Regions from separate parts of the Homo sapiens genome. Here all the other regions are linked to region 3. The links come from fine-mapping of genetic effects on gene expression. A gene starts in region 3. Each other region holds a variant in brackets. All regions are shown on one strand. Distances are from middle to middle. Region 1 overlaps SCUBE2 (signal peptide, CUB domain and EGF like domain containing 2). Region 2 overlaps SCUBE2 (signal peptide, CUB domain and EGF like domain containing 2). Region 3 holds the start of SCUBE2 (signal peptide, CUB domain and EGF like domain containing 2). Region 4 has its middle 34 kb from the start of DENND2B. Region 5 overlaps LMO1 (LIM domain only 1). Region 6 overlaps SCUBE2 (signal peptide, CUB domain and EGF like domain containing 2).

Region 1 (5,105 bases), 70 kb after region 3:
ACAGACGGGCCCTCTGAGCGCTGGACAACGGTGAGAACTGTAGCTGGGGCTAACACACATTGAGCATTGCTGACTGCCAGGTACATGCTGAAGTGACTTTTACATGGTGCTTTCCTCACAATCACTCCATAAAGTAGACTTGATTATTTCCTGATTTTATAGATGAGGCCATTCAGGCTTAGAGATTTAAGGAACTGACCTAAGGTCCCAGCATGGCAAGGTTGCAAAGCAAGGTTTGAACCAGGACTGTGGGACTCCAGAGCCTGGATTCTTACCTGTAACTTTCCTGCGTTTCTAATGAGTTGGAGCAAGTAAGGAAACACAGTAGTTCTTAAAAGCAGAAGAAATATTTTTTTTAAACGATAGCAGTCGGGAAGCATTTGGTGGAGTGGCAAACAGCTGTCTAGTTTTCTATTACACCAGAACGCAGCACAGCAACCGACATTCTTAATGGTAAGTCCCATCAACAAAAAGAGGAGAGATACTGCCGCAGAGGAATTCAAGATGAAAAGAAAATGTATTCTCATATTTTATATTCACTAAAATAAAAGAAAGACACCACACTAATGGAGTACCAATGCTATTGTAAACATATCGAATTAGTAATTGTGACTATTATACCATTACTTTCCATTTGCCATCCCTTAACTGAGAGAAACTTTTCAAGAGTTCCTCTCACACAATTTCAATGATGTTCTCATAATGTGTTTGGCTTTGTCGCACATGATATGCATACAAAGAGGCATTTTTTCTGTGTCTGGAATTTGGAAAAGATTGTGCTTTGCATATGCTTAATTTGAATGATGCCTATAGGAAGTAAGCTAGACTTCAAAGGGGGAAGATTGGCATTTGGAGAAGTACAGCATGCACTGCATTTAATGTGTATATCAGGACAAAAAATATTAATGAGAGAACACACACAGTTTTCTTCCTCCCCGACCAGCCAAATTCTCCACCCTCCAGCCCCATTCAAATAAAGGAGAGAAGAGTCTTTCTTGGTGGATAAGAAGCTTGATTGTTTTACATAATACAAGAATAGAGAAAAAAGCGGGAGGTGGGGAGGTGAGAGGGAAAGGAGAGCCTGATGAGCTCAACAGGAAGTGAGTATAGACAGAGAAGAGAAGACCAAGGACTAAGCCCTGGGACCCTCCTTTGGTAATAGGTCAGAGAGAAGAAGAAAAGCAAAGAAGCCTCAGAGAAGTAACCGGTAAGGTAGGAGGAAAACCAAAGAGCATGGTGTCCTGGAAGCTCAGTGAAGAACTGGATCAAGGAGGAGGAGTGACCAGCCAGGTCAAAAGCTACTGATGCATCAAGGAGGATGAAGACCAAGAACTGGCCGTTGGGATTTAACAACATGAAGGTCATTGCTGGTCTCACCAAGCAGTTTTGGAGGAGTGATGGGGGCCAAAGCTGATTGGACTGGGTTTAAGAGAGAAAGAAAGGAAAAGAATTAGAGACAGTGGGTGCTGACAATTTTTTTAAGGATTTTTGCTGCAAAAGGGAGCAGGTAAGTGAGATGGAAGCTGGAGGGAGAAATGAGGTCAAGGGAGGGATTTTTAAAGTCAGAGACATACAGCATTTTTGCATGCTGGTGGGAGAGACGAATAGAGAGAAAAATGTATCATGTAGGAAAGAAAGAGCAGAATTACTAGAACAATGCTTTTGATTTGGGGAGAGAAGATGGACCTGGCATGCTAAGTGGAGGGATGAGCCTGGACTGGATGCACAGAGGCTCGTCTGAGGGAAGAGGGGACGGGGAAGATGGGTGCAGATGCTGGTAGGTGAAGAGAGGTGGTGGTGGGAGTCTGTGGAAGTTTTCTTCTGACTGTCTTCTCAGTAAGCAGAATGGTAAGTGATAGCAGCCACAGAAGGGGCATTTCTCAGAACCTTATCAAAAAGTGAAAGAGTGAGTTTGGAAGCAACTAAATCATAAGAATGCAAAACATGTTCTTTATTCCAACAGAGGACTACCAGGAACTCATTGAAGACATAGTTCGAGATGGCAGGCTCTATGCATCTGAGAACCATCAGGAAATACTTAAGGTGAGTGCCTGGCTCAGGTGGACATGGCAGTTATCCACAGAGCTTCCCGAGTACTGTTGGAGAAGGCTTCTCCTCCTGCTCCTTGTTGCCACCTTTCAGACACGGAGCCTGTCCTGGGCCAAGGTCAGTTTTATACCTTCACCAGACTTAATTTTTAAAAAAATCAGGTTGCTGTCTTTAGTGTTGTCAAGTGAAGTTGTATTTTTCAATTTGGAAACTTGTGGAGGGGCAGGGAGAAATTTGCTTATAAATCCAAACCAACAGCAAATAATGTTTTTCTATTAATTCCAAATAGTTGAGGATCCTTGGCTCTTTATGTATACTTCAAGCCTAAAATTCACCAAAGTTTAAATACTTATAAATAATTAGCAATAAACACTTGTGGTATCACTAATCCTACAAATACTCCCAAATCCCAGTGTTGCATTCATCTGGTTGGGAAAAA[G/AG]AAAACAGGATTTTACATATTAAAGTTTTATTTATAAAAGTAATTCATACTTCTTAAAACTAATTAGGAAAAATAAAAACTGGAAAGAAGATAAAAATCAGAGGAAACAATTTTTGCAAGTGTTTTTCAGCTAAGCAAGCTACGGCCTAATACTGGGTCATTATAGTTCCATGGGCAAAATGTCAGCATATTTAAATATTTTGGCCCAGTAACAAAAATTCTGTTCTTTTTAGGATAAGAAACTTATCAAGGCTCTGTTTGATGTCCTGGCCCATCCCCAGAACTATTTCAAGTACACAGCCCAGGAGTCCCGAGAGATGTTTCCAAGATCGTTCATCCGATTGCTACGTTCCAAAGTGTCCAGGTTTTTGAGACCTTACAAATGACTCAGCCCACGTGCCACTCAATACAAATGTTCTGCTATAGGGTTGGTGGGACAGAGCTGTCTTCCTTCTGCATGTCAGCACAGTCGGGTATTGCTGCCTCCCGTATCAGTGACTCATTAGAGTTCAATTTTTATAGATAATACAGATATTTTGGTAAATTGAACTTGGTTTTTCTTTCCCAGCATCGTGGATGTAGACTGAGAATGGCTTTGAGTGGCATCAGCTTCTCACTGCTGTGGGCGGATGTCTTGGATAGATCACGGGCTGGCTGAGCTGGACTTTGGTCAGCCTAGGTGAGACTCACCTGTCCTTCTGGGGTCTTACTCCTCCTCAAGGAGTCTGTAGTGGAAAGGAGGCCACAGAATAAGCTGCTTATTCTGAAACTTCAGCTTCCTCTAGCCCGGCCCTCTCTAAGGGAGCCCTCTGCACTCGTGTGCAGGCTCTGACCAGGCAGAACAGGCAAGAGGGGAGGGAAGGAGACCCCTGCAGGCTCCCTCCACCCACCTTGAGACCTGGGAGGACTCAGTTTCTCCACAGCCTTCTCCAGCCTGTGTGATACAAGTTTGATCCCAGGAACTTGAGTTCTAAGCAGTGCTCGTGAAAAAAAAAAGCAGAAAGAATTAGAAATAAATAAAAACTAAGCACTTCTGGAGACATAATAATGTACATTTATTGCCAGCCTTCCTCGTTGCAAGCTTCCACCCTGCAGCAAATGCACTATGCTGACTCTCGCACCTTCAGCTGTGCCCTCTGACACTCTGCTGGCCATTGCCTGAGGGACTGGGGAGTTCAGGTGAAATGTAATTTCCTCAGTGGATGAGAATCATCAATTGTCATGAAAAGGCGATTTCACCAACCCTGAGTCGGTATTGCCAAGGGTTCTACTCCCCAAGTGGGCTTCCCATCACAAGGGATCTGAGGTCCAGGTGGGTGTGGTGAGGCCCAGCCTGTCATGTATGCCTTCCTTCCCCAGTCTCAAATGTGAGAGACGGACTCTGCTCCGTGGACATGAGCAGCCCCTTGAAGGGTGGTCTCATTCTCTAACAGTAACAGCACTGCCAGAAACACCCCCTGAATGCCACACGATCATCTCACTTTGGGTCAGGCCAGCAGGGCCTCACGATCATTTCTTGAACTTGAATTTTCAGTGTTATTGAATCTTTAAACATTTAAATCCCCAAGCAAAAATCTCATTACAGTGAATAAAAAGGAATCCAATCAAACAAGCCACCACTTCCCTAATGGATGGACTACCTACAACTATAGTGTTTTGTTATTTCAATAACAATTCTATGCACAGCCAATTCTCCATACCAAAGTACTAAAAAAATGTTTAACAAGCATTTTTGAAGAAAACAAAGAGAACTTCATTATGGTTAAACTTGCTTTTCATCTCAGTGTTGCTTTTTTTAACCTGTTAATAACATTGATTCTTAAAAAGTCCTAATCAAACTTCTTTATTTGGATGGGCCCTAAATATTCATTTTCAGATTTCTCTTCAAAAGTTTGAACATCATCATTAAAAAAAAAATAGCATTAAAACAAGCACTTGGACTTTGTTATACTGGAGCTTGGCCTATATTTCTGAGTCTAACCATAAGATGAAAATTCGAATGTCACATAAACCCGAGTTAGTGACCGCACTGATGTGAAGGTGAGATGAGCTGAGCTGCACCATTCTGTCCAGGCATGTTAGCAACTTTGTGCTCATGACTGTGTGATCCTGTCTTGCTGATTTCACAAGAAGGCTAGGGATGGGAATACTCTGGGGGTTGGAAGGAGGCTGCATAAACCCGGTCACTATGGAGGAGCATCCTCCACGGGGCAGCCCCATGCACCAGAGCTGTGTTGCTGGTACACGCACAAACCACTGACGCACAGGAGGTATAAAGAGGAGCTTCCTCTCTATTCCCTCAACTACCTTAAGAGATGCTGTGATCCTGTTGGGGGCTGGCTATCTGGAGATACTATTTCTACCTGCTACATCAATATTTATCAAACTTCTGCCTGGTACTCTAGGCCCTGGGGATGCGGCGATAAGACAGACAAGGTCCCTGCCCTCATGAAGCTTACATTTTAGAGGGAAGAGACAGACAAAGAACAGATAAATCAACATGAAAAGTAGCAGCTAGTGGTAAGAGCTATGTTGAAAATTAAAATAGGTTACTGTAACAGATGATTGTGTGGCTACTTTAGGATTGGGGATTATAGATGGCCTCTATGCGGAAATT
Region 2 (5,105 bases), 50 kb after region 3:
ATATCAATACAATTTGAATAGTGCTATGTGTTGTTTTTAACTGTAGTTAGATCAAGAACATCTCTCTAACATGATAGCGGAGCAACCTCATTTCTTTTACAGCTTCCCAGGCTGTATTTGTTTGAAGACACCAGTATTGATTAGCCCTACCCCTACTGGTGAACATAGAAGTTATTGCTAATTTTTATATGGCAAATAGTGCTCAATGAATATCATTCTTTGTACACATGGCCAATATTTCTGAAGGATAGACTTGCAAAAGTACAATGGCCGACTCAAAGAACTTGCATATTTAAAACTTTAATAGATACTGCCAAATTACTTTCCCAAAAGATCATGCCTATGCATGTCGCTTCCAACGTTGGAAGCATCCTACATCTTTGCTAACATGGATTATTTATCATTGATCCTTTTCATTTTTGCAAATCTGGTAAGCAAAAAAAAAAAAAAATAGTCATTTTAACTTGGTTTTCTTTATTAGTAAGACTAAGCATGCTGTCTTATGCCTGTGGTCATTTGGATTCCTTCTTCTGAAAACATCTATATTCTTTGCCTATTTTTGCATTGAACTGTTTGTCCTTTGTATAGCATTAAAAAATAAATTTTAAAGTCCCAATTTACACCAGAGAAAATAATCACTTCTGACCAATTGTATATTTTCTTTCTTATCATTATTTTATATAGTAAAGTTTCATTAATTTGGCATTTGGGGACTTTGGGGACAGCCTGCTCTCCAAGTGACCTTTGTACCATCTGTGATCAATTTTAACAAGATGGCAAAAAAAAAAAATGATTATAGGGTCCAAGGAACAAATTTCTTAAGCTCTGTAGTACTTCATAAAGTTCTTCATGTCTAAAGAAAATTAACTATATGACATGGATGTCTAGCTATTGTACTTTCATAATACCAGCTAAAAGATAAATTATTTAAGAAATACACTGGATAATATATATGTGTGTGTATGCATGTGTGTGTATATATGTATGTATGTATGTATGTATTATATATACTGTATTTGGTTGTTTTGAAAACTTGCTGAGATTTTTAGAAGAAACAATCCAGACAACTGGCAAACTGGGAAGTATTTTAGTGCCTGGGTTCTTGAGAGACTAGGAACATTTAATTCCTTTTGTAACAGCTTACTGCTGTTCCTCTGCAGCAACCTTGGATATGTTGCTAAGGAGCCTCAACTTTATCTCTAGGTGACATGCTGCCATTGGAGGATTTACTCGGGAAGTGTCCAGGTCATATGTGTATTCTAGAAAGATCTCTCTGACTTTACTGGAGGGAGCAGAATTAGAGGCAGAAAGACCAATCTGGGGGCTTTTGAATGTGTTGCCTATGAGATACTGAGAACATGCAGGTCCTAGATAGAGAAACAGCAATGGGTTAGAGAAATATTTAAGAGGGAAAATGAGCAGCATTTGGGGATGACATGGATTGGGGACTGAGAAGGGGAAAGAGGTGGGCTGAGCTCAGAGGATTCTGATGTGGCCTGTGATCCTGGCACTTGCTTCCCATACATCCCTCATCTCACCATGCCCTGTTTCATATGCAGGAGGCACTGAGAAAACGCCAGGGGGTTGGTTGAATGATGAAATGAATGTGATCACTGGGGAAGAAATAATCAGAAGAGATTTATAGGAGAAGCAGGAAAAAAATAGGCTCTTGAGAGAGCATGAGAAAGGATGAAAAAGATACATAAAAGGAGGCTAAAGCCTGAATATTGAGTCAGAGAAACTGAGAGGAGTGCAGGAAGGCAAGGCAAGGAGGTTTTTGAGCCAGGGAGTGAAGCAATCAGAAAAAGAGTTTAGAAAGGTGCATCTGATGGTAGAATGGAAAGAGTGGAGGCAGGGAGGGACAGAAAGCCAGGGGAATCTTGGAAGGTTACTGCGGCAATCCAAATAAGAGACGGTGAGGATCTAAGGGACATTCATGCCATGGGGACGAAGAATAGGGGATAGAGAGAAGGGACACAGCTGTAGGATGCTGCCGCTGAGTGACAGGGCAGTGAGGAGAGAAGCCAGGGAGAGCTGTGATTTGGAGCCTTGGTGCCTGGGAAAATAGAGATGCTTCTGTAAGAGGAGTAAAGCCAGAGGCCAGGGAGAGAAGTGCTCCTTGGGCAACAAGATTTCTAGGCAGAGGTGTCCATGGGTGTCTGGGAGTCTAGCGAAACAACTTCTTCTCTTCATGTCCAGCCTAACTTGCCTAATCCCGAGTCTGTCCACACAGGCTCAGACCTGCCTCCTGTTAAAATGGATGGGCAGCCCATGCCTCTAAGGCCCCCCTCTATCTTGCACTCAAGCTGGAGCCTGTTCTCTCTCAGCTTCTTAAGAATGTTGCCCATGCTGTCCCCATCAACCCCTCCCATCTCAGAATTCTTCTCCTCTGCTAGATCATTTCCAACATCACACAAACCCATCTCCTGTCTTAAAAACCAAACAAACCCTCCATTGACTTCATGCATCTCTATAGCTACTGCCTCATTTCTGTGTCCCCCATTCTGTGTAGAACGAAGCTCTTTGAAGGAGCCGTAGTCATACTGTCTTTGCCTCCTTACCTCCCATTTCTCTTCAGTCTGATTTTCATGCCTAACCTCTCCACAGAAACATTTTCCAAGATTCCTAACCACCTCTGTGATGCCGAATCCAGTTGCCTTTCCTCACTCCTCATGAGGCATCCTCTCTGCTGATCACTCCCTCTCCTGGAAACACTTTCTTCCTGTGGGTTTCAGACACAACACACTTCTGCTTCTCCATACCTCACTGGCTGCTCCCTTTTCATTTTCAATGCTGGTTCCGGTTCCTCCCCTACTTTCTGATTATCCTAGGGTTGAATCCTTCGTCCCTTCCTCTGTCTTCACACTCTCCTTGGTGACCTTACCCAGTGCCATAGCTTTAAATACCACCACATGCTGGCGATTCTGAAACTGCCCTCTCCAGCTCCTTTGTCCCAGAGATGCTGAACATTTAAGAATGCACACACACACATTCT[C/T]TCTCCCTCTAAGTAAAATATATATGAATGTTTACTTATTTATAAACTATATACTTACACTATTGGCTAGTACACTATGTTCATCACAAAAGACAGAACAAGATAAAGATTAAACAAATTTAAAAATAACTGGCTAGCATCTTAAGGTAGAATCTTTACAATTGGGCGAAGTTCATTATTGATAGTGGTGGTTGCAAATCCATTTGTCCTATAGTCTTTTTGACTATTGCTAGTGCTTTAGGTGAACTCTTGACAGACCAGATTAAATCGTAACTGTTTCTGTCTCATGATGTAGTTTGACAAAGAGGTAATACACTAGTGCCTCCTTATAGGCAGTTTTGCTTTCTGTGGTTTCAGTTACCTGGGTCAACCATGGTCCAAGAATATCAAATGGAAAATTCCAGAAATAAACAATTTGTAAGTTTTAAATTGCCCACTCTTCAGAGTGGTGTGATGAAATCTCGTGTTGTCCTGCTCCATCCTGCCTGGGATATGAATCCTCCCTTTATGCTGCGTACCCACGGTGTATACCCTCCCCATCCTGCCTGGAATATGAATCCTCCCTTTCTCCTGCGTACCCACACTGTGTACCCTCCCCATCCTGCCTGGGATATGAATCCTCCCTTTCTCCTGCGTACCCACGGTGTATACCCTCCCCATCCTGCCTGGGATATGAATCCTCCCTTTCTCCTACGTACCCATGCTGTGTACCCTCCCCATCCTGCCTGGGATATGAATCCTCCCTTTCTCCTGCGTACCCACGCTGTGTACCCTCCCCATCCTGCCTGGGATATGAATCCTCCCTTTCTCCTGTGTACCCACGGTGTATACCCTCCCCCATGTTAGTCACATAGTAGTCATCTCAGTTATCAGATTGACAGATCACAAGAAGGGTGAGTACGGTACTATAAGATACTTTGAGAGAGAGACCACATTCACATAACTTTTTATTATAATATGTTGTGATAATTGTTTTATTTTATTATTATTGTTAATCTCTTGCTGTGCCTAATTTATAAATGAAACTTTATCATGAATAAGCACGCATAGGAAAACCCCTAGTGTATATAGGGTGTGGTACTCTCCGAGGTTCCAGGCACCCACTGGGGGTCTTGGATGGGAAACCTCCGCTCCACTGTGGACACGGGTGGCTGCTGTGCTAGGAGCAGAAGATGCACCCACGGGCCCTCTCCTGTGGTGCGGACGCGCGTGGCTGCTGTGCTAGGAGCAGAAGATGCGCCCACGGACACTCCTGTGGTGCGCATGGGCTCGCGTCACGTTTACGCCCTTCAGTCGGGTGTTCTTTCCGGGAATCCATCAAAGCTGCTTTCTATTTTGTGATGGTTAGTTTAGTTAAAAACACGATCATATAGGTCAGGACATCTCATTACCCAGGCATAGCTAAGCTGTAACTATTCTCTATGTATTGAGAGGCGAGAGTCAGTCAGTGCCCTGCGCCCGAGTTGTGGGTGCCAGTGCTTCTCTTTTCTTGGCGACCCTGGCTCCTCACATGTGTCTTGTGCCTCACAGAGATGGAGACTGGCTGGGAGGCTGCTCTTACACCATATTCTAAACCAGAGGAGCTTCGTTTGTTTCTTATTTTAGGTGAAAATTCGTAGGCATGGGTGTAGAAACGTGCTCCCACCCGGTGGATCATCTTGTCAACCCCCGAGGTGTAGTATTCCGCCTCAGAGACCAACAGTAGAACCCGTGCCTTCCTAGTGTCCGCACTTGGATGGCCAACTGGCATCTCAAACTCAGTGTTTCCAAACAAAGCTTCTTATCCTCTCAAGCTTCAAATCAAATCAAACCAGCATCTCAGTAAGGGGCACCTCGCCTCACCCAGTTGCTCAAGTGGAAAGCCTGAGTCATCTTGACCTCTCCCTTTCTGTTGCGTTCCTCATCCAGTCCGTGTGCAAATCCTGTCAGCTCTGCCTTCAGGTAATTTCCTTTATCTGACCAGTTTTCTCCTCCTCCGTTATTATTACTGCTCTGTTTCAAGCCACCGTCATCTCTAGCTCAGTCTGTTGTACCAGGCTCTGAATTGTTCTCCTCAGCCTTGCCTGGCCTCCATCTGTTCTCCACACAGCAGCCAGGACATCTCTTAAAA
Region 3 (5,105 bases):
ATTATGGAATCAAGGGAATGAGTGAACCATCCAGAGAGAGGGTATAGAAAGAGGACTCCTAGAAGATGGTGGAGAAGGCATTTCCTGAGAGGTAGGAGGAAAACCAGGAGTTTGCCACGATGACAACCAAGGGTAAGGAGAGTTTCCACCAGGGAGAAGTAGTCCACATGTCAGAGGCTGCTGGGGGCGGGGGGGGAGTCAAGAAAGGTGGGCACTGAATGGTGTCCCATGAGTGCAGAGTGGCACCTGCTTATGTGTAGTTCAGGGGCACGCATGGCCGGCCACTACCAGGCTTTCTTCAGCCTCCTCAAAGGCCCACACCAGTGTGACTGGGCTGGCTGGACTGCCTCTTCGCACCCCTGAGGCCTGGTTCATGGCCTCTCAGCCTGTGGAGAGGAGACAGGGAGAGGAAGAGGGAGCTTTAGCCTCAGTCCAGGGACGGTGTCTGAGGCCTTTCTGAGAAGTTTGTGGGGACCTCAGCTGCAGAATAGAGGGCAGCCTGCAGCCAGAGTAGAGCCAACCAAGTTCCTCCTGACACCAAAAACACTGACATTTGGACACAGTTTTCCCCTGGAGCTTCCCCCTGTGGAAATTCCCGGTTGTAAGCCATATTGACTTTAATCTCAAGTGTCAAAAAGGTTGCCCAGGAGTCTGGGAGCCAACAGCTGAAAGCACGTTTGTAAGGATGTCAGCGCAAACAAAATAGGATACAGAACATTTTTTGAGATCTGTGCCAGTGGTGGACTTTTCTGGGAAACATGACAAAAGCTGACAGTCTTAGGCAAAAAGGCGCTGATTCTTGTCATTATTAATTTATGTCCTTACTGAAAGATCAAGTTAGGGAAAGGTAAAGGGGAAGAATAGCACATGTGTGATTTCTTTGCCAGGCACAAGGGCGCTGCAGGAGGCTCCCCCTAGAGTTTAATGGGCAGCTTTATGTATTTATATGCTTTAACTGGAGCTAAAGAGGTCTGTGCCACACAATGGGCAGTTTCTAGTTGGATTTTAAAAGAAATAACTTTGATCATTTCAAAAGCAATGAAGCCTGATGCAGTGGAGAGAAAAGAAGGCAGTAATTTATGGCTACCATTAAGGACACAAAGACAAAGGTGGAGAGAACGTTTCACTAACTGAAGATTTACAAATGTGTAAAAACCACCCTTATGACCAGAAATAGCTGAGTGTCTCTCTCAGCACCAAACAAAAGGGAGTGGGAGGGAGGCGCAGACAGAAAGAGGGACGCAACCTGCCTGCCTTCACTGAAAGGGTCAAAAGAAAAACAACTACAGAAAAGTTATTTTCTCAGATAGCTCCATCAAGCAGCTGCACTAGCCACAGCCCAAAGAGGCAGGCCCCCGTGGGCATGTTCGGGGGCTGGGGTGGCAGACAGTGGGTACTGAGGGTGCAGAGGCTGGGAGCTCTGGGCTGTGGATAGGCCCCAAGAAGACATAAGAGTTTTTGTGCATGAGCTAGGTGGGGATTTTTTGGTGACATCTATTTTTTTTCTGATCTCCAAAGGAATGGTGTGTGTGTGTGTGCGCGCGTGCGTGTGCCTGCATATATACATATGTGTATGTATATAATCGCAGGAGAAAATTGAATAAATACGGAGAAGCTCAGTGAAGAACATTACTATCCCTAAGTGTGATGTTTGGTTGCGTCCGGAAATTGTTACTATATTTGTTCCTGGAGTGATGGTGGGTGTATTGGGCTCCAGCCATCCGTGTCAAGTGTGATATGGGAAGACCCTGTGTACCTGTTCCCTTGCAAGGACTGTCTTTCATGGAAGGCTAGGTGCTAGGCCCTGCCTGTGTTTGAAGCTAGCCAGACCTGATGTTTATGAGTTCAGGTGATCGTAAATGCCACCTGTACTCCGGCAAAGTCGGGGCTGCTGTCTGTTGTCTCTGGTGGCTCACCTTTGACCTCTAGCCCCCTTCCCCTTAGGCTGCCCTGAGATATACATAAGTAGCTTGCAGGGATTCTAGGCCCAGTGTGCCCCACAGTGGGACAAGTGGACCAGTGCCCTCAGGGCTGTGGGATGGAGGATCCCAGAGGGCCTGGGGTGGGCAGTGTGGAGAAGGGTGCAGAGGGTGTGCTGGGGTGGGCAGAGAAGCCAGGGTCACCTTCTCCATTCAAACAGCTGTTTTCCCGAATTGGAAGTCACCCCCAATTCCTTCCACTCCCACCTCCCACCTCCCACGTGGAAAGCCCCAAGATGGCTTTGGGGTTTGGGGACTATACGGAACACTTTCTGGGCGCCCTGACCCCGAATATTTCAATCTAGAAGGGCTGTTTGTCCTCACATGAGGGCCTGGGTCGAGTTGTAACACACTGGAACAGGCGCGGCACCGAGGGCTCCGAGCGTTGGAGCGGAGCGGGGATGCGGGGGGCAGCGGGCTGGGTGCCAGGGCTGCGCGGGGCGCGAGGCACGGTGCTGCCGCCCCGCCAGGCTGACAGCCGCGCTCGGGCCACCGCGGCCGCGCCCCCTCCACCCGAGGCCGGGGAGGGGACGGGAGGAGGCCGGGCGGGGCGGCACTGCTCCCGCCTGCGCTTCCCGCCCCGGCCCGGGAGGGACCGTGTGAAAATGAGGCCGGGGCTCGGGGGGCGGGCGGGGCCGGGCCGGGGGTGGCAGCGGCAGCGGGCAGGGCGTCCGCGCACACCTCCCCGCGCCGCCGCCGCCACCGCCCGCACTCCGCCGCCTCTGCCCGCAACCGCTGAGCCATCCATGGGGGTCGCGGGCCGCAACCGTCCCGGGGCGGCCTGGGCGGTGCTGCTGCTGCTGCTGCTGCTGCCGCCACTGCTGCTGCTGGCGGGGGCCGTCCCGCCGGGTCGGGGCCGTGCCGCGGGGCCGCAGGAGGGTGAGTGTCCGGCCGCGGGGGCGCACCTGGCACAGCAGGCAGGGCCAGGAAGAGTGTTTAGGTCCCCGGCGGAGTCCAGAGCCGGGCGCGCGGGGCTCGGGGCTGGCGGCTGCAGCTCCGCGGGGGCCTCTGCTCCCCCCGGGACCTCACCCGCCGGCCGGGCCAAGGCGCCACGACCGCTGGGGCCCTGAGTCCTTCGGCCCGGCCTCGGACCCGGAGCTGCTGACGGTTCCCGCCCCGGTCCGGATGCCTCCAGAGCGCCTGCTAGTCAGACCGTCGCCGGCGAGCAGGCAGGAGGGTGCGGACCCTGGCCTTGGGGTCCCGCGCCTCAGCGTAGGCGGGGAAACTGAGGGCCGGGCCGGGCACATCCGCGAGGCGGTGGCAGCTTTGCCGTTTCTTTCTTTGGGGGCCGGCAAGTTCTGCTGATGGCTTCGGGGTGGGCTCCAGAGACTTTTCTGTCAGCGGAACAGCGCCTGTTCCGATCTGGGAATTACCCTGAAGCAGCAACAAGCCTAGGTTTTCAGCAGAGAACTTTGGTTTCCAGAGAGGACTCTGGACGTGCTGTGCTTACTGGACTTGCAATACTTTCAAAATGCTTTTGTTTTTAATTAATATCCTGGAGTAGTGTCAACCCAGGAAATACTTCTGCCAAGGCGGGTTTCCAGGTTGAGAGGATGGGCAGGGGTGGGAGTGCAGGGGGCCGGCCATGGGGACACCATCCCCGCTTCGCAGCATCTGAGAGCCCTGGATGACATCTGCTCCGATCCCGGGGCAGACTTCCCATAAATACTCTAAACCAGCGGGGTGCAATCTTTTGGCTTACCTGGGCCACAGTGGAAGAAGAAGAATTGGGCCACACATAAAATATACCAACACAAACGACAGCTGATGAGCAAAAAAAAAAAATAAATAAATAAATAAAAAAAAAATCTCATAATGTTTTAAGAAAGTTTATGAATTTGCATTGGGCCGCATTCAAAACTGTCCTGGGCTGCACGTAGCCCACGGGCTGTGTTGGACAAGCTTGCTCTGAGCTCCGAGAAAGCTGACAGACAGCTGCTTGGTGTTCAGAGCTTGTCTGTCCGTTTGGTCCTTTCCTCCTTTAGCGGGCATGTAGGTACTATTGCCTACTCACATGCCAGGTACTGCGCTGGCTTGGCATAAGGGACACAGACGCAGTCTGTTGTCAAGACATTGTCTAGTGGAGAGAGAGGAAGGAAAACAGTGACAACCCTGCCTGATGTGTGCATGCAAAGCCATACATATGCGAGCACTTGGTGAGGGCAGCTACAATGGGGGTCATGGCAGGCTTCCTGGAGGAGGTGGATTTGAGCTAAGTCCTGAAGGCCAGTAGGTGATGGTGGGGGTAATTTCACGTAGAGTGTCCGGGCTGTTCCTGGAAACAGGGACCCAGAAACAGTTTGGTTTATCCCAGGGATCCCAAGCAGCTGTAGCTTGTGAGGAGTGAAGCGGGGTGGGCTGGTGAGGATGATGCCAGACAGGGCCGAGGCCAGATCACACATGGCCTGGGAGCCTGTACCAGGTGTCAGCTGTGCTCTTTTGCAGATGTAGATGAGTGTGCCCAAGGGCTAGATGACTGCCATGCCGACGCCCTGTGTCAGAACACACCCACCTCCTACAAGTGCTCCTGCAAGCCTGGCTACCAAGGGGAAGGCAGGCAGTGTGAGGGTAAGTGCCTTGGGGACCATGTGGGGGGACTGTAGGGAAGCTCCTACCTCCTTAGCTCTTGCAGTGGCCACTTATGTTGGTAAAAGTACTGCCCCTCCTCTCCCTTTCCCCCAGCCCCTGAATCACATCACCTGCTCTCTGAAATATATTTCAGATCTTGGACTGGAAACATTAGGTCTTCCCCAGAGCTGCTCACACAGTTTTATCTGGCTCTGAAATGTCCTTTTGTCTAGCTTCTGGAAAAGAAAAGAGATGTGTTAGTATCTTTGGGTCCCACTCAGTTTTGGGGCAGAAAGTAAACATCCATGCTGATCAGGAGAGCCATGCCTGCCAGAGCAGGGCTGATCCTGCACCTCCCTGGGGCGGTTTGTACCTTTGCCCTGAAGTCTGAGTGCTAGAGAGTCCTGCCCTCCCCTACCAGCTCAGGAGGCTCCATCCTGTTTATGGCTTTGGCCACAATGTTTGGCATTGTGACGTGCCAAGCTTCAGAGTACACCAAGGACCTTCCTCGTTTGGAGTTACAGGTTCACTCTGGAGAGATGTGTGCAGAGGGGCATT
Region 4 (5,105 bases), 250 kb after region 3:
AAGAATTCAGAATCCACATGTATATAATGAACCTTTAATTTTGTGAAAGAGATAGACATTTGGATGAGTGGCAGGAGACAGTGTGTGTCCATTGGAACTGTAAGCAAGTAGGTGTCCCGCACAGTAAAGCATTGAGGGGTCACCCTGTGGGACAGGAACATGTCTAAGTCACAAGCCTTATCTTCAGAGAGGCATCAAACACCTACAGCAAAGAGCTAAGGATTAATATCAAAATACAAATGGATCATGGAGCGGTTTAGAAATATTGCAGGCCGCCTCTGGTATAAACAGAGAATGATGAGGGTTTAGAGGTAGAAGAACTGACTATAAGCAGAAGTGTTTGAGGAGGCTGCATGGAGAACAAGGGGCATCATCTTGGCCCTTGGCAGGTTGGCAGGATTTGACTTGGTGAAGAGAACGAGAAAGGGGACTTTAACTGGGAGGACTACTCTGGGGCACAGAGGAGGGAAGCTGTTTTATGAAACCAGGTTCATTTGTTCCCATCTGTAGGTTCTGCCCTGTCCGCAAGCAGCCGCGTCTTGGCTCACTCCTCTTCTCCCCTCCTCCCCATTGTGATGACCATGAGCCTTCTCTTGGAGTGTCTGCCCAGTGGGCCCTTCAGCCTGGGCGCTGCTTTGGTTCGGATGATACTGTCCTCCACTTGTCTTCTTCCAAGGATAGATAGCGCCCTGACCTCTAGGGCCAGCAGCCTGTTGGGGGATCTTCCTTCCAATGTCACCAGCCTTACCAGCTTCTTGAGTATTTATTCCTTCATACCACACTCAGCCTTCTTCTGGCTCCTTGCTACTTGTTCTCTTAGCATAGACACTGTCCCCTCTCCCTTTCCCCAGACATAGGCTTCCAGGTTGCAATTCCATGAGTGTTCATAACAAGCCTCAGCAGTACACTTTAGGTCTTACTGTCCTTATGTCCTCTGGCACGTCCCTGTCTGTGTTGCTCTGTGGACCATGGTTTCCCATCTAGAAACCATTACTTGCAGTGGGGAATGATGCACATGAGGACCTTCGAAGGGCTTGTAGGAGCTGAGGCTGTGGGAATAAAGTGTGGGCCCTGATTCTGAAGGGACTTGATTCAGTCCTGAAGAGAAACCGTGTATTTTTGGTTTCTAGACACTCTGTAATTTATTTAATCAGACCTTTATTGAGCACATTTAGGCTGTCTTCAGTCTCTTTCTGTTAAAATATAACAGTAATTATCCACGAATAAACATAATTTAATGTTAATTTTGATAATGCCACTGTTTTGGTGGGAGAGGCAGATAAGCTAGTAGTCTTCAGACAGGGTATATTTTCTAGATCCTTGACTTTCTATGTCCCCTTTCCAAAGGCTGATCTGTCTGAGAATTCAGTTGCACTCAAGGTGTTTCCTTTCTCAATCACTCTTCTCCCACTTTACAAAAGGAAGACATAGTCATTATTAATCTGGAGTCTTGCTGTTTGTGTGCCTGATGTGTGAAAGCCTCCAGATTAACAAGCAAAGGAACAATTAGGACTATTATTAGGAAAGTGAATGACTGTGAGTAGCAAATCCTTTTCTAAGTCAGATGGTTTCCAATTCTTGCTTTCAACAAAATTGAAGGCATTGTCAGTTGGTAGATAATTAAAAATAATTTTTGATTATAGGTCATGACATGATTTTGACTTGTGATTCTAAAGATACTGATATTGCTATAGCAAAATTTATTTTACTTCTCCCATTCAAGTACTAACGGGGCCTGACCCTGCTTAGCTTTTGAGATCAGACGAGATGGCACATTCAGGGTAGTATGGCTGTAGACTGTCACTTCTGTTTAGTTATTTATGTGAACAAGGTTTCTTGGTGCTTACCACTATAAAAATGAAAAATTAATGCATTTTGAATAAAATTTTACTTTTTATGTTTAATAATAGTACCAATTTCTAAACCAATTATGTTTTGATCATTTGCATATTCAAACAATAAAGATAATGAAAACCCAATCCAGAAGAAGAATTTTTTTTTTAACATTTACAAGTTATAGCCTGGATGTGGTGGCTCACACCTGTAATCTGAACACTTTGGAAAGCCGAGGCAGGAGGATCACTTGAGGCCAGTAATTCGAAACCAGCCTGGGCAACAAAGCAAGACTCTGTTCCTACAAAAATAAAAAATAGAAAGAATTAGCTGAGCAATGTGGTGGGCATCTGTAGTTCTAGCTGCTTGGGAGGCTGAAGCAGGAGGATTGCTTGAGCTCAGGAGTTTGAGGCTGCAGTGAGCTATGATTATGCCACTGCACTCCAGCTTGGGTGATACAGCAAGACCCTGTCTCTAAAAAAAAATAAAATAAATAGAATAAAAAATTGAGGTTATAATCATAGCAGAATTTAAAAATTTATGCATTTATATGTATATATGTATAATACTAATATATATATTGCAGAGAAGTATAGGTTGATCAGTAAAAGATTTTGAAGCATAAATATTAGGATAAAATTCTGAAAACGAAATAAAAGGAAGTAAGAGTTAACAAAAAGGCATAGTATAAAATGTATGTTCTTTTAAATAGATGATCCACTATGGCATTTAGAGTCCATTGGATCATTTAGATTCATTTAAGAGAGTAATGTTGTATTTAATTTAAAAATGTAAATATTTATTTATTTTTAATAAAACATTTTTGTCGAGACAGAGTTCTGCTCTGTCACCCAGGCTGGAATACAGTGGTGCAATCATGGCTCACTGCAGCCTCGATCTCCCGGGCTCAAGCCATCCT[C/T]CCACCTAGCCTCCCAAGTAGCTGGGACTGTAGGCATGCACCACCACACTTGGCTAACTTTTCGATTTTTTTGTGGAGCTGAGGTTTCACTATGTTGCCTAGGCTGGTCTTGAACTCCTGAGCTCAAGCCATTCTCCCACCTCAGCCTCCTCAAGTGCTGGGATTACAGGCATGCACCACTGTGCCAGGCCTGTAAATATTTATAAAATGCCAATATTTAGAATATGGCAGAAAGTACGTCTTTACTACTGGTTGTGATGCAAAAATTTAAATATTAAATGTAAGGAGGGTAATATAACATTCTTTTAGGGCACATAAGATAAACAGACATTTACAATGGAGTATGATACAGATGTTTGACCAGAGGAAAGCAAAGAATGTTGAGGAGAAGATGCAAGGGAAGCCCATGGCCAGAGAAAGCAACCAAAGGAGGTGCCGTGGGAGCGGCATCTTGAGGGACTGTTGGAGTTGGCTTAGCAAACAGAGGAGGGAAGCCATTCTGGGAAGAGGGAGTGGTGTGTGCAAAGGGTCTGGAGGTAGAGAATATCAGGATCAACCTTGGGGGAAAGCACAGGGGTGGCATGAGCAGGATGGTGATTTACGGCAGCCAGACAGCGTATTATTTGTGACAGGATTTGTGTATTCCGTATGAGAGGAGGGCTTGGAAAGGAGAGGCGGTGGTGGGGCTGGAGATCTGTGGAGGTAGCTGTTGCCAAGGGCCAGGCATGAGCAAGTGAGGCCAAGAATGACCCCTGAAGGGGTGCTTCCTTCCCAGTGACTGTTTTCCATCTTAGTAATCTTCTGGACATTTTTACAAATGCAGAGATTCTTATTTACATTCTGCTAGAGGAAGAAATTGAGGCCCACTGAGAGTCTGTTCCTCTTGCAGGTTTTGTACTTAGTAGCAATGGGCTGATTGGGCTTAGTGCTGCAGCCTAAGGTTCCACATTGGCCACATGCTCAATTAGGGCCTTTAGCTTGTTATTAAGACGAGTGACTCCGGCCGGGCACGGTGGCTCGCGCCTGTAATCCCTGCACTTTGGGAGGCCGAGGTGGGCGAATCACCTGAGGTCAGGAGTTCGAGACCAACATGGTGAAACCCCGTCTCTACAAAAAATACAAAAATTAGCCAGGCGTGGTGGCACTTGCCTGTAATCCCAGCCCCTCAGGAGGCTGAGGCAGGAGAATTGCTTGAACCCGGGAGGCGGATGTTGCAGTGAGCCGAGATCGCGCCACTGCACTCCAGCCTGGGTGACAGAGTGAGACTGCATTTCAAAAAAAAAAGAGAGAAAAGAAGAGCAACTCTAATTTTGGAGCCAAAATTTGAGATCCTTAGGCCAGTACAGGATTTTTGTCCTGATTTTTGAATTTGCTTACATGAGAAGCCTTTACAGAGTCCTAAACATTAAATCAAACTGAATGTATGCATTTACGAAATCACCCTTACTGTAAAGAATTTAACTGTATAAACTCTTTGGTCTCAGGAAAGGTAGCACGTGTGACACTTTTCTGGTACAGGGAATTACAGGGAATTCTTTGTCTTTCATGATGTCTCCATCATGAAATAAGTGAAATAAGACTTTAAATAAGTGAAAGACTTGAAATAAGTGCAGTGAAATAAGACTGTGAGCAGTCCCAAAAAATATTTATGACAATTTTTTTCCCATTTGGAACATTTGTTTAGCACAGTGATAGAGACCTGATGTGGTGTTTGCGCAGGGCAGATTGAATGCACTCCAAAAGGAAACCATAAAGGGTCGAGTCGATACCACACAGAAACACGAGGTGGTGGGATGAGTGGTTTTTCCACATTTTAATATTTTCCAGGATGACACTGAAAGCCTTACCCTTAGAGAACCCTGAGCCACCTAATAATTCATAACTCCAGACTCTTGAGAGGGAGAAATGGAGGTTTATACCATTAAATAGATGTTCTGGGCCTTTCCTAAGAGAGGCTGGAAAGAAATTGAGGGCAGTCATCGGAATGTGACCAGCACAGCAAGGTAAGGGACACTGCACGACTTTGATTCCTTGTGGAACAATGTCTTCTTAATATCAGTATTTCCAGCTCCCTGTTTTTAAAAAAGTCTCTAAAAAGCCTATCTTTTTTGGGAGGACAGGAGAGAAACCTGTCAAGGAAGTAATGAGTCAGCACCGGGGACCTACTATGTGCCGTTCACAACTTGATACTTTCGTGAACGGATTGTCTCAGAGAGGAGGAAATCATGACTCAGAGAAATTATGTAAATCACTGAAGATCCAGGATTTGAACTTTGGTTCATTTGATTGCAGATTTCTTTCTACTACTTTGTGATGCCGCCTTGTGCTGAAATCGTGGAGAATGGGGGATACT
Region 5 (5,105 bases), 830 kb after region 3:
TATCAAATGCAATTACATTAAGACAGATTATACTGGGCAAATTGAGCCATTTAGAAGGTGAGAATCAAAGAAACGGCTCTGATCCTCTTTTCCCCCTTCTCTCTCCCTCTCCCTCTCTCTCTAAATTGCAGTTCGTAGTTCCTTCCAATTCTGAGGCACAAAAGTAGGTGAGACTGCTTTTGTATCTGCGAAGTGCTTCACTCCTGAATGTAATTCTAGCTGAGTGCAATCTAGGTTAAGAGCCGGACAAGCGGGTAATTAGAGCCCGCTAGCTGCCCGAAGACCGGCCGCCCCTCCAAAGCGCGCCCCGAGTCGGCGCCCTTCTCCCGGCCGAGCCTAGCTGCGGCTGGACACGGAGCGCCCGAGATGATGGTGCTGGACAAGGAGGACGGTAGGTGGCGGGCCGGGGTCTCGACGCCCCTCACCCCCTCGCCCCCTGCCGCGGCGCGCAGGCACACACACGCGGGGACACGGGCGCACACCTGCTGGGCTGTGCGGGGATTGCGGGGCGGGCGGCGCGCTGGGGGCCGGGGCTGGGGCGGGGGGAAGTACCGGGGGACAGCCGGGCGGAACTTGCGGGGGGAGGAGGTCGAGCCCCGGGCTGCACGCGCCCGGGGCCGCACGCCCCCCGGGTCCCGGCCGCGAGCCGAGGAGCTGTGCACTGGCCGTGTGCTGCGCCGCGGGGCCGCGCGGAGGCTGGGGCTCCCTTGCGATCTCCGCGCCGCGGAGGTTCGCTCTGAGCATTTCGTGTCTGAGGCTGCTGCTCTCACCGCAGCCATCACCCTCGCGCCAGCCGCCGCGTAACCCGAGAGGCGCTGAGCGCCGAGCAAATCAGCGGCTTCGGGGAGAATCGGGCTCCAGAGCTCGGGGCAAGCGGGAGCGCGGGAGGACGGCGCGAGCGCCAGGGTGCCCGGCAGGCGAGGGGAAGGCGGGTTGGACCCTCCGGGGGACATCTGCATGAGCGTGACTCGGTGAGAAAGAGAGCCGCCTCTTGTGCCGGCCCGCTAGCTCCCTGTCTCTCTGAGCGCGGAGGCGGGAGTTTGGCCCAGAGGAAGAAAGTGTCCCGCCGCCGGCCGGTAGCACTTGTGCGGGAGCGGCCTGCGAGAGTGGCACGGACCTTCCGTGGTCGAGCCTCAGTGCGCCCTAGAAAACTGCAGGGCACGGGAAAGGTCGGAACAGAGGAGCCCATGGCTGCTGGAAGCCACTAGCAGGTGGTCCCATAGACCCCAAAGCCTTACTGGCAGGGAGTGCCCTGCAGTTAAGTGTCCTAGAAGGCTGGGGATCCCAGCCCCCTTGGGGGGAAAGCCAAGTGGGTGCCCTAAGATGAGTCCCCAGGGTAAGGAGAGAGGCAGTACCTTGGCTGTCCCAGGACCTCCTGCCCTGTAGGTGAGGCCTGTGTGTTGGTGTTGCAGGGGCATTTGTATGTGACTGTTGGTGCCCACGCTGCCGCCGGCGTTCTGCCATTGGTGAGGTACCGAAAGGGTAGGTTTGCTTTGAGTCAGCGGGAATCCTCTTAAAGTGACTGTAGTGGCCATCCTCTGCCCTTCCGTTCAGGAGTCTCTGCTGGGCCTGAGCCCTCTGTCCCTGGGGCAGCGTTGTTATTGATGTGGCCAGTTGGTGAAAATGCAAAGCTAAGTGACTTGCTCAGGGTCACACAGGATGTTCGCATTGCCGCTGCCAGGTGCCGATGCCCCCAGGCTGCTACCGCCTTCTGAGACATCCAGCAGGGAGGGGGAATTTGAAGTATCTGGCCTGGGGGTGGCATCTAGGAGGACCTGTGGCTCTCAGTATGTGTGTAGGAAGAGAGAGGATGGGGGGAACCTCAGTGCTTCTGGGCTAGCTGGGGTGGGACATCATCTTCAATATGTCTTCTCTATTCACGGACCCCTTCCCTGGAGCCCCATGTAGGCCATCGGAGAACTTCATATAGAATGAAAAGGAGAAGAAGGGGTCTGGGGTTGGGCCAGACAGGGAGGGAAGAGACCTTGATTTGGTGCCTTTCATCACGAACTCCCCATGTTCACCTTCCCTCTTGGTAAAAATGAAGGGCTTGGAGAAGCCAGGGGAGAGGGTACTTCCTTGGTACCTGGAGATACTGTCACTATGGGGAGCATGCAAGGTTCATCTTTAGCAGAGGTTATTTGGCATACTTGGCTCCCCAGGCCCAAGCCAGGAATCCAGAAGACTCGGGCTCTGTACGTGAGAGGCCTCAGGCCAGGGAGATTGGTCTCATGCCAACAAGATGACACCCCCTACCTGCACCCAGGATCTTGCTCTGCCCAGGCACCACATGATGCCTCTGGCTCTGAGATAATACAAAGGGTTTCAGATGAGCCTTGAGTGAGAATGGATTTCTGGAGGTCATTTTAGCCAGCTCCCTGCCTCCAAATTGCAGTGTACCTCAAGCACCCTGGGCAGATGTTTCTTCTGGTTTCTGCTAGATCTGTGGAAGAGAGCTCCAGATGCCCCTCCATCCCCAGCCTGTCCAGCCTAAACAATATGGTGCCCACTACCATGGAGCTGCTGGGCTCTGGGGTCCATTACAGCACAAGCACATCCACTGGTGTCCTA[A/C]GCAGCCACCTATTCTTGTCCTACCCAGCCCATAGCTGTCTTTCAAAAGCGACGTTTCTGCTCATGCATCTGCACTCCACTCCCTATTAAGAGGAGTCTGGCCTCCCATAGTTCCAGGAAACCTTGAAGATGGCATCTTCAATTGGGGGAGGGAGAAAGGTTCTGGATGCACTCATCTGCTCCTCCAAACCAACCACCTATCTTCTTCTTGAACGCTTCTGCCCTCTCAGCAGGTGGCTATCTGAACTGGGTGGCAGCATTCCCCCACCCCCCGGCTCCCCCAAAGGGTGCGTTCCCTGCATACGGCACCTTTTGTCTGGCTGCAGCAGGGACTCAGGGCTGCTATTAACCACCCCCAACGCCTTTTCTCCACCTGACAGCATCTTGTCTGGAGAGGCTGGGGCTCCTCTGGTTGAAGTCGGGTCTGCCAGCTGCCGAGGACCAAAGCTCCCGCTCTGCTGGGCTGCAGGGCTTTCATGTTGCACTTCTGAAAGATAATAAAATATCAATCGTTTTGCCGTAGCAACGGGTTTAAGAGACTTTCTGAAGTATTGAATCGTCAGAAAAAAAAAATTTTTTTTTGCTTTTAAGCACAGTGCATTATTAATAAAGTAATCCATTAGGTCGAGCAGTGAAGGGTCACCACAGAGACGGAAAGATCTGTTTTGCAAACGGTTAAACTTCGGGTTTTAAGATTAATTGCTTTCATTTGGATGCTTGCTCTTGGCCTAGCCATCTCCACTTTACTGGAACTCAGGGTCCGGGCTTTCTACATGCTGCTGGGTCTGCCTGTCAGCGAAATGGAACTGAGCTCCAACTTTCCCGGAGAAACAGCCCTTCTTCCCCTGGCACCTGCGGCTTGGGCTGGCACCAGGTGGTGAGCTTTTTGGGAGGGTTAAAATCCCAAGGGAGCAAGGAGAGCTACAGCTCTGAATGCTACCCAAGTCAAATGAGCCCCTGGGCTGTTCGAGAAGAGGCCTTTGAGTAGGAGCAGACAGCAGAGAGTCTGAGAGGGCCCAAGAACAGTGAGAGCTTTGGTCTGTGGGGGACTGGGCAGGAGAGGAGGCTGGGGCATCCAGCTGGGGATGCTGGGATGCTCTCAGGTGCACACAGGAGAAGGGCAGGGCTGGGTATAAACGGCCTTTGCAAAGGCCCAGCAGGAAGGTGGGGGTGACCACAGGAAGCAGCAGGCGGGTTGTGGAACTAAACACCAGACATGATTCCTAGGGCATTTTTAATAAGTAAAAATGCCCAAGAGAGTGAAGCTGGACTGAGGAGGACCAGACAGCGGAGTCTTCAATTGTTAATGACTGCTAGGAGCACAAATTCCACAGCCGACTCAGTTAATCCACCAGAGCCGGCGCATGGCTATGCTTGGGTACCAACCAGCCCTTGCTGGGCCACCAGTAGGATTTCCTAGGATAGACACTCATGTTCTAGACCACAGAGAATCCCAGGGGCCTCTCCTGGCAGAGTGTGCTCATGACCGTCCCAACCCTGGAGAGGGAGGCAGGCCCTGATGCTGTTCCATGCCAGAGACCCCAGCCCATCAGCAGGAAGGCGGAGCCAAGTGGACACTGCTGCCTGCTGAGGCCTGGTAAAGGCCTTGTGAGTCTGGCAGGGTGGGGACCAAATTGTGCACTTGCCCAGTGCCTAGAAGCAGGGGAGCGGGAGGGTTACCATCTGCATCTACCATGACCAGCCCCAGCGGCAGCCCTCCTTTCTGCTGGGAATGAGGCATCACATCCTGAGCTGCACATACAGCCGCTTCCCCTTCCTGCCCAAACTTAGCCAGGCAGAGTGTCTGTAAAGATGGGTAACCCGCCCCCCAACCCCACACACACACCCGAGCCTTGGGTGAAGAAGCAGGTGCTTCTCTCTGTTCCCTGCTCTTCCATTCATTTGCTCACACAGAGCAGCACTAAGGGGGGACAGGGAAACAACATAAATTGGTCTGTCGTCCGGAATCCATGTCTCGCTAATGTACCCAGATTAACTCAACTGTAAATTGTCTCCTTGGATGGCGGTGTCTTGCTAAAAGTTTCCCATATGATTCATGATTTGGATTGCTTTTAACGGCTATTGGCTAAGCAAGCCAGTGACTGTACAAGGTGATGCAATTGGCATTAGCGAGGGGAGGCACGGGAGCGTGTAATGCAGTCAATACTGCATTAACTACTGATGCCCAATTACAGGGAGCAGGAGAGAGCCTTTCAGGAGCATTAGGACTGGGGGAAGCTGAGATCACTGGCCGCTGCTCGCCTAAAAGCTTCACCCTTTGGATGCCGGGGCTCAGTGCTGGCATGACCACTCACTTGGCCTCTGTGGCTGTGGGAACTGCCTTTTTCTCTTGCTGTCTGTTTCTGAACATGTCCTCAAAGATGCCTTTAGCACATGAAAATGTATGTTTCCCTAGAGCTGGGACCCGCTTCTCATCCCTCCCGAGTAATTGATTCCTTACCCCCACCCTGTGTCACCCTGTGTCTCAGAGTCAGACCAGGCAGCTGCCCCATAAGCTTCCATTTAAGGAACTT
Region 6 (5,105 bases), 38 kb after region 3:
ATTTGCCGTAGTTAATAAATTAATATTGCTGTTTTACTAATAGTTATATGACAATAAAAATGCATAGCTAGCACCTGTAGCTTACAAAACCCTTTTTAGGTATGTTATCTCATTTGGCTTCATTTAAACATTTTAAATTAGCCCTGCAAGTACGCATGGGTGAAAGAGACCAACTGAGTTTTGAGGGAAGTGCAGTTTGCAACAGAATGTGGAAATGAGGGCCGTGGCAGTCAGTATACTTCTTGTGGGCTGCTCCACACTTTCTTTAACACAAGTGAGTGAGGAAAATGGATAGATAATGTTTTTTACTCTGTGTGTATTGTTTTTGGTGTTGGTCAGCAACTGGTATTTATCATAAACCTATTCTTCACTCATCCCTCAGAGTGGGTTTCAGCTCCCCTCTCCCTTTGACCATTACAGATGTGGATGAGTGCTCTTTGGATAGGACCTGTGACCACAGCTGCATCAACCACCCTGGCACATTTGCTTGTGCTTGCAACCGAGGGTACACCCTGTATGGCTTCACCCACTGTGGAGGTGAGCAGACTGCCCCTGTCAAGTTGGGAGGGGAATGAGGCTGGGCCTGGAGGGGAGCAGGGCCTACCCCTGAGGTTTGCTTTCCTACATTGGGGTATGAAAGGTACATTGCAGTCCCTGAGCAATAGCGGTGAGTCCATCAACTTGAGAGCAGGATCTGCTAAAGGAAATCTCCCCACATGTATCCCTTTAACACACCGAGTGTGAAATGGAGCAGAGAGAAGAACTGAGCTCTTCCAGCTGTGAATTCTCTATCGACTTGATTGACTTGCGGCTGTATTCAGAGAGTGGAAGGGTATCTCAGGAGCTGATAACCTATCTATTGGAACATCTCAGCAGATAGTAAAGTCACAGTCCTCAGAGAGGCTTGGGGGGCACCCACCAATTCCACAGCCCTGCTATGCATAGGAACTGGCTGCAAAGCCTTGGTTTGAGTCCCACAACTAGGTCTTTGAGCTGGAAGCAGAACTATGAAGTTTCTCTCTCCACTCTGTGCCCATTTTGCAAAATGTTCTCATGTCTCATAACCTCATGGTCAAGCAGGCTATGCCATAAACTGGATTTGTTACCAACTAACTCCCACTCCACTCCCCCAGCCATCAGATTCACCCAGCAATCTTTGAGAATACAGGTTCAGATTCCAATTCAGAATGTCTAGGACTTCCAAGGTCATCTTCCTGAGGATCTATAGGATTTGGGAACCACTGGCTTAAATACTTCCTGACCAGTCCTGAGTCTTGTGCTTTAGAAGATTGGATATGCTGGGCGTGGTGGCTTACGGCTCTAATCCCAGAACTTTGGGAGGCCAAGGCGGGCGGATCACCTGAGGTCGGGAGTTCGAGACCAGCCTAACCAACATGGAGAAACCCTGTCTCTACTAAAAATACAAGATTAGCCGGGCGTGGTGGCGCATGCCTGTAATCCCAGCTACTTGGGAGCTGAGGCAGGAAAATTGCTTGAACCCGGGAGGTGGAGGTTGCAGTGAGCCGAGGTTGTGCCATTGCACTCCAGCCTGGGCAATAAGAGCGAAACTCCACCTGAAAAAAAAAAAAAAAAAAAAAAAAAAATATATATATATATATATATATATACACTAGTGCTTTGCTACTGACAGTTATCTCCCTTCTCCCTTTCAACACATCCTTGGCATGGCCAAAGACATACTACTCTTCCCAGTCCATCAGGAAACCTCGAGGAAATGTACCCTGAGTATGGATGTATGTCTGGGTTTAGGTGGAGCTACCTTTTGATCTGGACTCAGTCTCAGGTTGATGGGAATTAGTGTAGTCACTTCCCTTTCTCTGTGCCTCAACTGTGTAAATGGTTAAGCAGGGAGTCCCAGTTCTGTCTGCCTCCCTTGCTAGGCAGCTCAGAAGGATGGTAGAGTTTTAAAATAGAAGTCTGTGCAGTGTCTGAGTTTGGACATCTGAAAGTAGAGTGCGGATCCTTCTGAGTGTTGCTAATGGAGGAATGGATTGGTCAAGAATGGAGCTTGAGTCTGGGTGTGGTGGCTCACACCTGTAATCCCAGCACTTTGGGAGGCCAAGGCAGGTGGATCACCTGAGGCCAGGAGTTCCAGACCAGCCTGGCCAACATGGTGAAACCCCATCTCTACTAAAAATGCAAAAATTAGCCAGGCGTGTTGGCACATGCCCGTAATCCCAGCTACTTGGGAGGCTGAGGCAGGAGAATTGCTTGAAGCTGGGAGACGGAGGTTGCAGTGAGCTGAGATGGTGCCACTGCACTCCAGCCTGAGTGACAAGAGCAAAATTCCATCTCAAAAAAAAAAAAAAAAAAAAAAAGAGTGGAGCTTGAGAAGGCCCTATTGAGCCTCCTGCCAGGAAATTTGCTGGGTGGGGAGTGGGGTGTGCAGTCAGCTGGTGCCGAGCGCTCATGCTAAAGGCATTCAGTGTCTTCCTTTGGTTAGTGAGTTTCAACCTTGTGACTCCCCTGCTGCTCCTTCCTCAAGGGAGGGACCATGTCAGCCCATTCAGTGACAGGCTGCTATGACAGGAGAGTATTTTGTTCCACAGACACCAATGAGTGCAGCATCAACAACGGAGGCTGTCAGCAGGTCTGTGTGAACACAGTGGGCAGCTATGAATGCCAGTGCCACCCTGGGTACAAGCTCCACTGGAATAAAAAAGACTGTGTGGGTAAGGGGAACCGAGGCACAGACTCAGACAGCAGGCTGGCCACTGGCCCAGAGGCAGTGCAGCTCTGCGTGCTCCCACATCCCACCTGACCGTCCCTCCACTGACTTCCCCACCAGCTGCAGCAACTGTTCTTTAAATAGTTCAAAAACAGGAGATACTTTGC[C/A]GGATCTTTGGTGTTTCCTTCTGTGCTTCTGTGTAGGTTGGAACTCACTTCTGTTTTCCTGGTTGCTTTTCTGCATGAAGAAATGGCATATCAGGGGCTCCTTTCCCTTGGTGGGAATAAGGCCTAGCATCTATGTTCTGTGCTGGGCATGAGCTCTACCTTCTTTTCTTGGGGCCTTTGGTGCATGGGACTCAACCATCCTTGTCACACTTGGAAATGTCCTTCTCTTTCTGTAAGTGTCTGTTTTGTCCTGTCTAGAAGTGAAGGGGCTCCTGCCCACAAGTGTGTCACCCCGTGTGTCCCTGCACTGCGGTAAGAGTGGTGGAGGAGACGGGTGCTTCCTCAGATGTCACTCTGGCATTCACCTCTCTTCAGGTGAGTGGGGCCCAGTTCCCGGGGCAGGTCCTCACACTGGGGCCAGGCCTCTCTGGCCTCCAGGTGTTAGATTCCCTCAAAGGGCTTCCAGGTCCTCCGCCAGATGCCCCGACCACCGTGCTTTGAGAGGTCCATGCTTCGAGACCCCATATGCTGGGCATTTTTCTAGTGGCCCATGTGGAGTGGGGTGGGGGGACAGTTTAGCTGCTACCAGGATAGCCTGTGACCTTGCTTATGCATTTGACAATTGACATTCTGTCTGTCAGGACTGCAAGGGGCCTACTCTGTCACCTGTGGCTCTTCCTCTCCTCTCAGGAACAAACAACAAAAATCAAATGACTCTGCTTTTGGGGGTAATTACCAAATCTGCGTGTTCTCTCTGGGGGCTCACTGTGTTCAAGGGGCTTCATTCACGGGGTGCTGTTCTTGGACATTGGCTTTGTTTTTTTTCTGTTAATTTCCTTGATGCTGTGAGCATGTTCCAGGGTGTTGTTGCCTGCAGTCCTGGTGCCCGGAATGTGACTCTCCCATGTAACAGATACTTACTGTGTGGCCACTGTGTGTCAGGAGGCTGTGGTCAGCCCTGGTGGGTCATCACCCTGGGCAGAGGCCCACAGAACCCCAGGACCAGCAGGCTGTACTCCAGAGCACCTCAAAGGCCCAGGGAATGTGCCTGGAGCACATGGTGTGGATAGAAATAGGCAAAGCAGGGGCAGCAGGGATTCTGTGCCGAGAAAGGGGCCCAAACCCTTTCCTGTTTGTCAAAAGATGAAGAATGAAATCCAAGGTTTTTAGGAGGCTGTGTCCTCCCGGATATAGACGCCTTTGTCATTATGTCATTGGAACACCTGAATGAGGTTCATATTACATCCTGATGTTCATATTACATATATGAGCAAAGCTAGAGACTCAAAGCAAGACAGTACAGCTTGTATGTGTTGACTGAGCAATTCAAATATGCCAGCTACCATAGTACACGAATTAACTGACTTAAGCCATACTACAACCCTCTGAGGAAATTTTACTATTATTCTCATTAACCAGATGAAGAAACTGAGGCTCAGAGAGGTGAAATAACTTACTCAAAGTGGTTTAGATAAGAAATAGGGGAGCTGGGATTTGAACCCAGGCAGTCTGGGTCCAGAGTCTCAAGCACTATCCTTCACTGCCCCTTTCAATGCACGTTTGGACTCAGCCAGGGCATACATCATGGTCTGTTTCGCCAAATCCCTCAGTGACAGTTCCTTGGTGATTTGGGCCACCCCAAGGTGGGGCAAGCAAATAGCTAATGGCTATGCAGTTATTACTACGTACCAGGCAAGGAGCTAAACATTTTCCTTTTTTTAAATGCATTATCTCATTTTATCCTTACAACAGCCTGGTAATATAGGTACTATAATTATGCCTGTTTTACAGATGAGGACACTGAAGCTTAGGGAGATTAAGTAACTTGCTCAAGTTCTCACCACAACTTAAAAGAGCTGTAGGGCATTGACTCCAGATCCTACCGGATGGTTAAGACTGACTGACCCTGGGAGGAGAACAGAATTTTGCACATCAGGCTCTCACAGTGGGACCCTCACTCCCTCTCAGACCTCAGAGCCTAGCCATGTTTAGTGAGTGCCATCTGTGTCTGGAACAACAGCTCCCTCAGCCCTGTCCTCCCACGACGGGCTTGTTTAGGAGAATCTGCCCTTCACCGTTTCGCCAAACGGGCTTATCCAGATTTGAACTGGGGGATTCTGGCCTTTTTTTCTCAGGAAGGCACAAAAATGACTTCATGTTCTATTTCACCGTGGAGGCTATTTTTGACCCTCAGTTTTAGATAGATAGATAGGTAGATAGATAGATAGATAGATAGGTAGGTAGGTAGA

What was found. PIP is the estimated chance that this variant, and not a neighbour inherited with it, causes the effect.
Region 1: its variant is fine-mapped to the expression of SCUBE2 in transverse colon (GTEx, PIP 0.94).
Region 2: its variant is fine-mapped to the expression of SCUBE2 in lung (TOPMed, PIP 0.95).
Region 4: its variant is fine-mapped to the expression of SCUBE2 in blood mononuclear cells (TOPMed, PIP above 0.99).
Region 5: its variant is fine-mapped to the expression of SCUBE2 in uterus (GTEx, PIP 0.95).
Region 6: its variant is fine-mapped to the expression of SCUBE2 in tibial artery (GTEx, PIP 0.95).

Annotation. Positions count from the first base shown.
Region 1 is chr11:9,018,814-9,023,918 of GRCh38, reverse strand. It overlaps SCUBE2 (signal peptide, CUB domain and EGF like domain containing 2), which reads left to right. Exons shown (of 23, transcript NM_001367977.2): 22 at 1,964-2,043; 23 at 2,722-4,443. The coding sequence ends at 2,874. The region is part of intron 1 of NRIP3-DT (NRIP3 divergent transcript); the gene reads right to left. Among named protein-coding and RNA genes, the nearest start is that of NRIP3-DT, 17 kb to the right of the region's middle. The variant G/AG (reference allele first, on the strand shown) is at 2,489.
Region 2 is chr11:9,039,149-9,044,253 of GRCh38, reverse strand. The region is part of intron 16 of SCUBE2 (signal peptide, CUB domain and EGF like domain containing 2); the gene reads left to right. All of the region lies in intron 1 of NRIP3-DT (NRIP3 divergent transcript), which reads right to left. Among named protein-coding and RNA genes, the nearest start is that of NRIP3-DT, 38 kb to the right of the region's middle. RefSeq lists a silencer at 4,959-5,008. The variant C/T (reference allele first, on the strand shown) is at 2,996.
Region 3 is chr11:9,089,149-9,094,253 of GRCh38, reverse strand. It overlaps SCUBE2 (signal peptide, CUB domain and EGF like domain containing 2), which reads left to right and starts at 2,655. Exons shown (of 23, transcript NM_001367977.2): 1 at 2,655-2,858; 2 at 4,425-4,547. The coding sequence starts at 2,726. MIR5691 (microRNA 5691) reads left to right here and starts at 3,875; the gene lies at 3,875-3,942.
Region 4 is chr11:8,841,956-8,847,060 of GRCh38, reverse strand. It overlaps a transcript of DENND2B not described here and the pseudogene RNA5SP330. Among named protein-coding and RNA genes, the nearest start is that of DENND2B, 34 kb to the right of the region's middle. The variant C/T (reference allele first, on the strand shown) is at 2,753.
Region 5 is chr11:8,258,624-8,263,728 of GRCh38, reverse strand. It overlaps LMO1 (LIM domain only 1), which reads left to right. Exons shown (of 4, transcript NM_002315.3): 1 at 1-391. The coding sequence starts at 367. Among named protein-coding and RNA genes, the nearest start is that of LMO1, 2.7 kb to the left of the region's middle. RefSeq lists a silencer at 640-729 and enhancers at 1,426-1,965, 2,896-3,397. The variant A/C (reference allele first, on the strand shown) is at 2,572.
Region 6 is chr11:9,051,225-9,056,329 of GRCh38, reverse strand. It overlaps SCUBE2 (signal peptide, CUB domain and EGF like domain containing 2), which reads left to right. Exons shown (of 23, transcript NM_001367977.2): 10 at 421-537; 11 at 2,571-2,693; 12 at 3,115-3,231; 13 at 3,498-3,584. The region is part of intron 1 of NRIP3-DT (NRIP3 divergent transcript); the gene reads right to left. Among named protein-coding and RNA genes, the nearest start is that of MIR5691, 37 kb to the left of the region's middle. The variant C/A (reference allele first, on the strand shown) is at 2,857.